2 separate regions of the Homo sapiens genome follow, and region 1 is linked to region 2. The links come from fine-mapping of genetic effects on gene expression. A gene starts in region 2. The other region holds a variant in brackets. All regions are shown on one strand. Distances are from middle to middle.

Evidence for each region.
Region 1: its variant is fine-mapped to the expression of CNGA3 in testis (GTEx, PIP 0.94).

What each region holds. Positions count from the first base shown.
Region 1 is chr2:98,384,850-98,389,849 of GRCh38, forward strand. It overlaps CNGA3 (cyclic nucleotide gated channel subunit alpha 3), which reads left to right. Exons shown (of 8, transcript NM_001298.3): 6 at 4,809-4,925. Among named protein-coding and RNA genes, the nearest start is that of CNGA3, 41 kb to the left of the region's middle. RefSeq lists a silencer at 3,249-3,436. The variant G/T (reference allele first, on the strand shown) is at 2,861.
Region 2 is chr2:98,344,141-98,349,660 of GRCh38, forward strand. It overlaps CNGA3 (cyclic nucleotide gated channel subunit alpha 3), which reads left to right and starts at 2,316. Exons shown (of 8, transcript NM_001298.3): 1 at 2,316-2,394. RefSeq lists an enhancer at 2,816-3,327.

The DNA of each region.
Region 1 (5,000 bases), 40 kb after region 2:
TCACTGGTCCACTTTGAAGCCAAGGACCAAGGGACAAAACTGGGAACTATCCCAAAATGAGGACACACACAAAATAATTATTTATGAACACCTTCCCCGACTCTTCACTCCATTTCTGTCATTTTCATATGGTCTCATTTGTCCTGAATAATTTTTCCCTCCCCCATCAAACTGTTCCCAGCCAAAACCAGCAGCATTTTGCAGTTCTGTGTAGGGTTCTTTTGGGGCAGTGCTGGGTGGATTTGGGGATGCAGCCGATGGTGCTGGGTCTTTCCTAGGCTCTCAGCAGTTTGGTACCCAGACAGGCCAAGGCCCGTAATCCAGGGCCACAAATCTTGCACAAGGCAAGCTGAGTCCGGCGTAAACTGCAGGGCAAAGCTCACCCAAAAAGCTTGAGGGCAGCGCCGTCTGCTGGTGACTTGACGTTAAGACTCCAGTGCCTGAAAAGAGACCAGGGTTCACATCACCCTGGAGGACAGAGGAGGGGTAACTTTCCTTGCTCTTTTCATTTAATGATTTTAATAACCTTTTATTCTAATTCACTTTATTGAAATACTCTTGCTGAAAACTTGGAAAACAAGAAAAGCACACAGGGGCATACACACACAAAAACTGCACTTCATGCTAACCATGGAATTCCACTATCAGAGATAGCCCCACTTAACATGTTGACAAATATACTTCCAACTTCTTCCTAGGCATATATATTGAATACTTAGATTGATACAATATATTTTATATATACATATACTTGTTAAGAGCATCTGTTTCCCAACTCAGTTGCCTCAGAGCTTTGTGACCTTGGACAAGTGTATTAGTCCATTCTCACATTGCTAGAAAGAAATGCCTGAGACTCGGTAATTTATCAGAAAAGTGGTTTAATTGGCTTGAGGTACTGCAAGCTATACAGGAAGCATAGCAGCTTCTGCTTCTGGGGAGGCCTCAGGAAGCTTTCAATCATGGTGGAAGGCAAAGGGGGAGCAAGGAGTCTCAAACGGCAGGAGCAGGAGGAAGGTGGGGTAGGTGCCGTAAACAACCAGATCTCAAGAAAACTCACTCACTGTCTCAAGCAAAGCACCAAGGAATTGGTGCCAAACCATGAGAAATCCACCACCATGACAGGGACACAGATTCAAACCACATAAGCTGGTTACCTAACTTCTCTGTGTATCTGTTTCCTGGCTTATAAAATAAGGATTGTAATAGGGTCTTATTACATGGTGGGAGTGAAGACTGAATGTGTTACTCTGTGAAAAGTGCTCAGAACAGTGCCTGGTACATAGTAAGTGCTCAATAAATATTGACTTGTGTGGTAGGCAGAACAATCTCCCCCAAAAGATGTCTACCATCCTAATCCTTAGAACCTGTAAACAGGTTACCTCATATGGCAAAGGGAACTTCGTAAATGTGATTACATTCAAGGTCCTTGAGATAGGTAATGATTTGACTTGGCTGTGTCCCCACCCAAATCTCATCTTGAATTGTAGCTCCTCTAATTCCCATGTGTCGGGACAGATCTGGTGGGAGGTAATTGAATCATGGGGGTGGGTCTTTCCCATGCTGTGAATAAGTCTCACGAGATCTGATGGTTTTGTAAAGGGGAGTTCCCCTGCACAGACTCTTTGCGTGCCGCCACGTAAGATGTGACTTTGCTCCTCATCTGCCTTCCACCATGATTGCGAGGCCTCCCAAGCCATGTGGAACTGAGTCCATTAAACCTCTTTCCTTTATAAATTACCCACCCTCGGGTATGCCTTTATTAGCAGCATGAGAACAGACTAATACAGGTAGGTTATCCTGGATTATCAGGGTGGGCCCACTGTAATCACATGAGTCCTTAAAAGCAGAAGAGTGGGTCAGAGAAAGTAAATGGAAGAAGAAGAGAGTCACAGTGTGAGGGGGACTCGACCCATCACTGCTGGCTTTGAAGATGTAGGAAGGGGACCTGAGCTAAGGAAGCCACAGCCTCGAAAGGTGCAGCCAGCAGGGAAACAGGGATCTCAGCCCCACAATCGCAAGAAGCTGGATTCTGCGTAAGATCCAAACGAGCAGGAATCAGAGCCCCGCCTAGAGACTCTGGGGGATGGCAGCCCTGTCAACACCTTGATTTTAGTCTGGTGAGATCCACAGTAGACTTCTGACCTACAGATCTGCAAGATAATACATTTATGTTGTATAAGTTTGCAGTAATTTGTTCCGGCAGAAATAGAAAACTGATCCAGCTATTACGGTAAACTCTTTTGTAGTCTGCTTCTTAACTTAGCAAAATATTAGGAACCGTTTTCCCACGTCACTAGCTCTTCTGAAACAGCGTTTTAAGTGGCCATGTAGAATTCACCGTTGAGGATGAGCCTGCATGGTCGTGTGATTCGGTGGCTCTCCCTTTTTGATTGTCATGAATAATGGCAGTGATTATTTTTCCACACGTATCGCACACAGCCTTGATTATTTCCATAGGAAGTGTTAGGTAATTGTGAATGGATCTTTTTCAATGAGTGTTTAATTAGCAGAATTTATCTCTCAACCATGCCTTCCTTCAGCGTGTGGAAGAGAGAAATCAGAGGGGCCTGAAGGGGACTCGAGGGGTTGTCCCTTCCGCAACCTTTGTTTCTTCAACTATTCAATGGGGCATTACTGCCTGCCTTGAAGAAATTTACATGTATTCATTAGATAACTTTATAAGAGTTCCTAGCTCTTAAAAGACACCCAATAAAGAAGAGGCAGCAGTGTGAAGTCTTATGTTGAAGAAAAACCTGCAGTCACAGGACCATCCTGCGGACGCTGCCTGAACCGTCTCGCAGCCCAGCAAAGTCCGAAGGCGTGTCTGAACTCGGCCACATTTGCGAACCTGCGACCACAC[G/T]TATTTGCCACTACATGCGTCACAGACCCGCCTCTTCGAATGTTGCTTCCCTTCTGCTCACTGGCTTTCTCATTAAGGCCCAGGTTTTCACTTGATCCAGAGAGAGGTTTCAAGAACAGCGGACAGGCCACACCCTTCCATTCAGAACGGAGAGCCTGGCGTGGGATTTCCAAAACTCCGAGTAACTTTCCCAACTTCAATGTGTGGATTTGGGTCTATGTCGTACTACCTCAAAACGTCTCCAGTCTCTGGCTGTTTGTGACTTCCCAGGAGCTCATGAAAATAGATCAGAAATTGTAGAACATTAGACTGAGCCACTAATTTCTCAATGTATACTCAATGGGGTGGTTTACCTCACGCTTCAGGAATAATAATAACAAATCAATAACCCCATTTCATCCCAATGCGCTGGAAGCACCCCTTGCCACGCCCTCTCTTCAGGACGTCTCCACGACGCCACACGCCACGCCCTCTCTCCGGGACGCAGCAGCCTGCCCCTTCCATTTGGTAATGTCCTTGATATATGAAGTCTGCTAAATGTGCCCCGGCATCATCCAGCAGCAAGGCAGAAAAGAACGAAGAGAAAAAAGAAGAGAGAAAAGCTACCTAAAACACGAGGAGGAAGTACTGAAGGAAGCTGCCTCTAAAGACGGGGTGCCATGGTCCCAGCAGGCCTGACCCCTCCCTGCAGGGCTCCAGGGCTGGGTATCTTGGAGCAACGCTATCAGGGGGCCTTAGCTTCGGCCCTGGAGGGGAGAGGGTGCTTGGAGCTGAGGAAAAGTCGGTCCCAGCAGGCTGCAGACCATGCCTCCTGAGACCATGTGAAGCCCCCATCTTGCAGAAAGAATCCTCTCCAAGCTCCGGGAACTCAAGGGGGGCTTATAAGTAAAGAGAGTTGCTTGTCTGCAGCCTCCGGTGGGCAGCCGGGGGCTGCCCCTGTGAGCCTGCTCATGTGCCCCCCACCCGAAGCATTTCGTTTGCCCTCACAAGTGGGCCGGCCACACGTAGGCTGAGGGCTTCTCTGGGGCACTGGAAGATACAATGTTCACAAACTTTCACCCAAATTCAGTGGTGATGAGAGCTGTAGGGAACGTCCCAAAGCCCGGTCAGTGAGTGACCTTGCACTTGCAGCATCCAGGTGAAGGCAGGAAGTCACTGGGGTCTCCGATGGAGCACAGGAGCACTCTGCAGGCCTGGGCCAGCGTGGGTCGCATGGGATGGCAGAGGGGACACATGGACCCAACAAAAAGGCAGTCTCCAGTACAGCCTGTAAACTTGAATCTGCGGGAAATTCTAAGAATAAAAGTTAAGCACTCTAAGCTATGTATTTCATTCCGTGCGGGCCCACGTGACAGGTTATTCCCAGGCTTTTGATGGAGAGGTGTGATGCAAGCCCTTGGAAATGAGCCTTTACATCGTCCGCACAAACACAGTGAGGGAGGTGGAGAGGGTTCTGGAGGGAATACTGTGGGGCTCCCCAACTCTGTCCAGAGAGGGGCTGCCTCAGAACTATCCAGGCAATGCTTAAATGCATATTTCCAGGCCCAGCCCTGGAAGAGGTGAGTGGGCCCTGGGAATCAGAATTTTCTGGAAGTTCCCCAGACTTTAGCAGACCTCTGTGACATTGCCATGCTGCGTTTTCATTCTCAGCATCCTGAAGGGTGTGGATGTTGTCGTGGGCACATGGGAATGTCATCACCATTACCTTATAGTCGACCGTGACCTCCTGGGACTGAGCTGGGAGAGAAGGACCTCTGGAGTCTACCCTACCTCCTGGCCTGCCTTCCCCTACAGGGACTCCCCATGTGACTCCCTTGAGACTAAGAGGACCCTGTTGTGGACAGCCACATCTTGGGCTTCAGCCTGAAATTGCCCTAGGCTCTCTAAAACCCTCCAAAGCTACAGTCTTGGAGCACAGTGCGCTGTTTGTGTATGTGTGGGTTTCCAGGAAGAAGACGAAAAAGAAGGATGCGATCGTGGTGGACCCGTCCAGCAACCTGTACTACCGCTGGCTGACCGCCATCGCCCTGCCTGTCTTCTATAACTGGTATCTGCTTATTTGCAGGTAAGCGACAGGGGTGGAAGGTGCAGCGGAAAGGGGGAAACCAGGGCACCAGGCCCAGGAGCCAGAGCTCCACCT
Region 2 (5,520 bases):
TACTCTTTTCCCCACAGACCCCTCCCCACTTCCTTAGTGTCCTGGCTGAGGCTGAAGCAACTTAGCATTCACCTGGCCCCCACCCCCTTCCTCCCACTCTCACCTGCTCTGTCAGAAAGAGGAGATGGTGCTTTCTCCATAGCTCTCTTCTTCCTGTGGTCTCCCTATTCTAACAAACACCAAAAGACTTTGGGTTTCTGAGAATCGCGCTCCTTGGTCTCTTAGTGCCATGGGCCTGTTAGAGCATCCCACTAATTTATTCAGAGGTTGCTGTATCCTGCATCTTCACAAAATCTTGCTGTCCCTTCCACACTCGACCATGCCTCAGTTGAAGCTTGAGCAATAATTGGAAAGGTCCCCAGAGGCCACTCCATTGAGTGAGCATTGGGCCAAATCTGGACCCTCCATCATGGCAGCCTAGGATCTTGCAGCTCGATGACTTTTGCAGGCAAATTCACAGATACATCCCCTTCAGTCTCTTTCCATTCATTTCCAGTCTCTTCATCTGTTTCCACTTTTCAGACACCCAAAGTTCTTCAATGATAACTATTGCCACATACATCATTCCCTAGGGGCCAACTATGTGCCCATTTCTGTGCTAAACACTCTATCTCATTTCATCAGACTCAGGACACTTCTCCATTTCTTGATTAATTCTGTGAGGTCTTGTTTTCCCCTTCAAATCTTAGGAATGATGTGCATTTCAGAAACAAAGTCCAAGGGGATTTTTCAGGATGATGCCTTAAAATGATCTCATGATCACTACTATTTACTCCAAAATCAGGATTTAAGATTCTTTTGAAACTCTGAAATGTTTCTGGACAACAGAAAATAATCATCTGCTTCCAGTCTTCCCTGAGGACAAGCCAGCAGGAAACAGCTTTAACTTGTTGCATAAATTAATGAGATTAGAAGAAATAAAGCATTTCCTGACAATGAGAACTATAAAAAAAATGCACATAACAACTGAGGCACGTGGAGATTCATAATTGAGGCACGTGGAGATTCCCTGGAATAAGAATACTGAAGTCCTCAATGAGGCAAAGTCTCATCTATTATATTTTCTCTTGAAATTATTATAATTTCAGGTTCCTTTCAGAAGCCCAAGTAATAAAATAAGAATTCTCCTCTCTTCCAACTTCTGTGGCTTTGGCTTCCTTTTGTTGATTCACCACTTCCATTTATTTGCTCTTCCACTACCAGAGTCCCTTGAATCTGAACGACTAAGCCTGATTTTCTTTGGGGGAAAATTTGTCTAGGTTTTACTTCCCCCCTTTAAGACATGACATGTGTGCACACATGCACATGTGTGTGTGAGCCATTCTAATTCTTTATTTCTTCAGTGAAAAACATACACTTCATCTCTCCCTTCAAGTATTGCATGAACTCGATGAACTTAAGCCTTCTAAAGATAATGTGTTCAATTAACAGGCGATTTGATAAGTATGCTAGGAAATGCCATGTACTCCAAGTCCTCAGAGAAGCTCTGGTTAGCTGGCTGCGGTGGGATCTGCTTTTGTGGAGTTTCTTCCCATGAGGGTATCAGTCAAGAGAACCTGGAACCCAAGAGGCTTGTCCCAGGCAAGGAGGCTTGGATTCCTCCCGGGACCTGCTCCTGCGATCCAGAACCAGAGCATGCAATTGCTGGTGAGGGAAAGGCAGGATTCGGTCTTCATCCTTCATGGAGAGGTGTGTTCTTGGAAGTACACCTTCTGGGAGGAAAATGAGTTTTAGTAAATAAAGTTATTTTCTCCAAAAAGAGTTTAAGTTCCTTGGGCTTCAATAGGGGTTAAATAATTACTAGCTGGATTGGTGGTTTTAATTTTTAGTTCAGGAAATCCGATGTTATCTGATGTGATGGAAGGAAACAAAAACTCTGCAAGGAGAATACACATTGTCCCAAAGAGAAACTTGTTTCTAACATCTTCCCTAAGATGGCAAACGGGTCCAAGACTTTGTGCGTGTGTGTGTGTGTGTGTCCCCACCTTTAAACTTCAAACCCCAGATCTCTGTTGCTTACTCATCCAGTGTGGATTACACTACCAGCAAAACATCCCAGGAAGGAGTCCAGGGTGGCCGCCCACAGTTAGGAGAGAACCCAGAACGGAACGACGGACTTGTTTGCTTTCTTGCCCCTGACTCTCCCCGTCCTCCCTGGGAGGGTTGGGGATGTGAACTAATGACTTCTGCCTCTTTCGGACCGCCTTTGAGGCTCCAGAGCCTCACCTTACTTTCCCACGGAGAGGGAGGCCACAGGCTCCTTCAGCAGTCGCCGAGCAGAGTCCTGGGCCGGGAGCGCGGGGGAGGGAGCGAGCGGAACTGCGCCTAGGAGGCCGAGGGAGGAGGCGCTCCGCAGACCCTGGCGCGCCGCGGAGAAGCTCAAACTTTGGCAGGGTAAGGATTTTTAGGGGCTCTTGAGCTGGAATTTTTTGGGGGGCGCCGGGAGGTGTGCTGGGGCCGCAGACCCCATACAGGAGGTAAGTTAGAGAACCACACGCAGGGGAGGGATGCTGCTGCTTCCAGGGGCGGGCGCGGCGCTGTCCGCAGCCCCCGGTGCTGAAACGGGCCGCGGGCTGGAGAGAAAGTGAAAAAGGATCGGCTACGGCCTCGGCTCCCACTCCCCGGCTCCCATACCCCTCCAGTCCAGTTCAAAGGACAGGAAGCCCTCCCCGTGCTCCCCAAGCCGATCGCACCCCCTTTTACTCACGTCCCACAGCCGCGCTGGGCCGAGCCCGCTGAGCCGTCGGGGCGGGAGGCAGAAGGAGCAGGGCTGGCTCCCGCTGGGGACGGGTAGGGCTTGCAGCCGCGACCCCACCCCATACATTTCCTCCTGTCACGCTGTCCCCGGACCGCCAGTCCGGGAAGGACCCACTTCCCCGGCTCCAAGTCGGGAGCGGGCGCCGCGTCTTCTCGAGTCCGCGCCGCGCCGGGGGAGGTTGAGTCAGTGGCCTGGAGGGAGCAGGGCCGGGGGAAGGCAGCGGCGAAGGACTGCCCCCCAACCCAGGGGACTATTTTCCCTTGGGGATTCAAAGAGAAAGGTAGGCTGAGGAGGAGGCGAGAATTAAAATTCTTTTAGGAGTGCGCGGTTACTTTTTTTAATGATAAAATCACACCCGGGATCTCGGACGCCCGGGGCTTAGTGCTCGGTGATGGAGGAGAAGGGGCGGCGGGCTCTCTGATCCTCTGCAATCCCCTAACCGGATAAAGGCGCCGGGCTCCCAGCCGTCAGGCTTTTCTCTTTAGCTCAGCCCGCGGCCCCTCCCGACGCCCCTGGGGGCCTTGGCGCGCAGGCCCTCGCAGTCCCGCAACCCCGGGCCGGGTGATTCATTTTTCTCCCTGTGTAATCTCCCTACTGAGCGGCGCAGCTGGGACTTTAACTTCGGCCCTCTGCAGCGGGGGTCTCCGGTTGGCGCGGCGCGTGAGGGAGGATGAATGGCGCTGGAACCTAGAGGACCTGGAGCCGGCGCCCCGGCCTCTTTGGCCTGAACCAGGTGCCTCTGACACGCAGTCCGCCGGCTCAGGCCTCGCCGGAAGCTGGCGGGAGCAGTCCCTTGCAGCGAAGCCCGGCACCCCGACGGCAGACGCTCCCCATCACATCTTCCAAAGGGGCGAGGCTGGGATCAGCAGGAATGGCACCCACCCGGGTTCAGACTCCATCCCGGAGTGGACAGCTCGGTGCCCCTAACATTATGCACTGTCCGCCACCCCCTCCCCCCAACACATACACACTTTCATTCATGAAAACCAGCAAGAATAGTGCTGTCTGGGCACGGAGTCCAATGTACAGCGTGCGTTCACGCTGAGAATTCATGGGGGACGCGGGTGGTTGGGCCGGGAGAGGAGAGATGGTCACTTGTGTGTGGTATCCACCAACTGGGTCTTCTACGCCAGAGTCCCAGTTGTAGAAAAGTCGGCCAGGTCAGAGGACCCAGATGGGATTTCACTAAGCTGGTGGGAGCTTCTTTGCGTTCTTTGGGGTAGGGGGAAGGACAGGAACTCCCCCTGCTTCGCACCAATGCCCAAACACCGCACTTCCTCTTCAGCCTCGGTTCAGCCACAGAGAGGGGCCTCCTCCTGTGTAGATGCCCGGAGGGGAGGAGCGGTGGTTCTTGGGGTGACTGGCTGGTGGAGGCAGGATCTTAATCACTTTAGCTGGGACTTTGGCCGTGACTACGTGTGCACTTGCCTTTGATGCTCCTGTTTCTATGTCTTTTCTGTCCTCATTCACCATCTGCTAGTGGTGGCTGCCTCTGATTAATATTGAGGTTGCCATGGCGACCAGTCTCCAGTCGCCATGGTACCCAGAAGGTAAACAGTTGGAAGCTACTCAGGCTCTTTCCAGCTCTGGCCGCTAGTTTCCCTAGGGAGTGGGGCGGGGACGGCAGTGACCAGGTTCCAGAACCCTTCTCCGTCCCGCCCTCCCCTTCCTCCCTCATTCCCACAGCGTCCTGCTCACCTGAAACCCCTGCTAATCCCCCACCAACCACTGTGGCCTCAAGGTTGAGATGGGCCATGCTTTTTTCTCTACTGAGGCTGGGGGTAAACAGTTTTCTCTCTGACCTAATGCATTTTGGTAACACCCTGAATATTTCTGAGTACAAAGGACAAGGCTCAGTCTGGTGGGAGAAACAAAATTTTAAACAGACACAGTCCCTGCCCTCTGGGACCTCACAGTGTAGTGTGGCAGACAAACCCTTGTGCAACCTACCAGGTGGCCTGCATTCCGGGTGTAAATGGAGGTGATAACAGAGCCCTGAGAGTTGAGAGAGGTGGGAGTGACTGACTCCTGGTCAGGGTAGGCCTCCCCAGCAAGGTTATGTTGCAACTGAAACTTGAAATCAACTGGCCAGCAAGAGAGGAAAATCTCTCTAGGCAGAAGCAAGGATGTGTGGATTAGTCAGGAGAGAGTAAGGCCCTGCTGTGGTGACGTATAGACTTGGAATATCTTGGTGGCTTCTCCCTTTGCTTATGCAATGTCTGATTTTTTGGGGAGTCCTGCATCATGGGGGGAGTCCACTTGCCAGAACCCGTCACTCAGCCTTCACCTGGCCTGAAAGGGAGGCTGGAAAATGCAGGAGGCACAAGATGGGCTTTGGTGAGCACTGTCTCTGCCAGTAGGTGGGGGCAAAAAAAAAACCAAATGTACAATACACATAAGGGAAGGGTGAGTAATTTGGCTTAGATGAGCATCCAGTTTAGGCTCACTTGATCCAAATTATGAAAAGTCTTGACCATCAGGCTAAGAAATGGAGACTGCGTGCTGGAGAAAATAGGCACCTCTAAAAGCTTCTGAGAAGAGTGACATAATTAGAACTACCTTTCATAAAGATTCTGGGGTCACTATGGAAGGTTCATTCATTTACACATTTATTCATTCTATACTCATTGAGCACCTCCTTAGTGCCAGAGAATGGATGGATTGTAGGAGTGACAGCCTGAAGATGGGAGATGAGCAAAGATAACTATTTCAGCCATCCTGGGGAGAGAGAAAGGCCTGGATCAAGGCAGGAACAGAGCTCA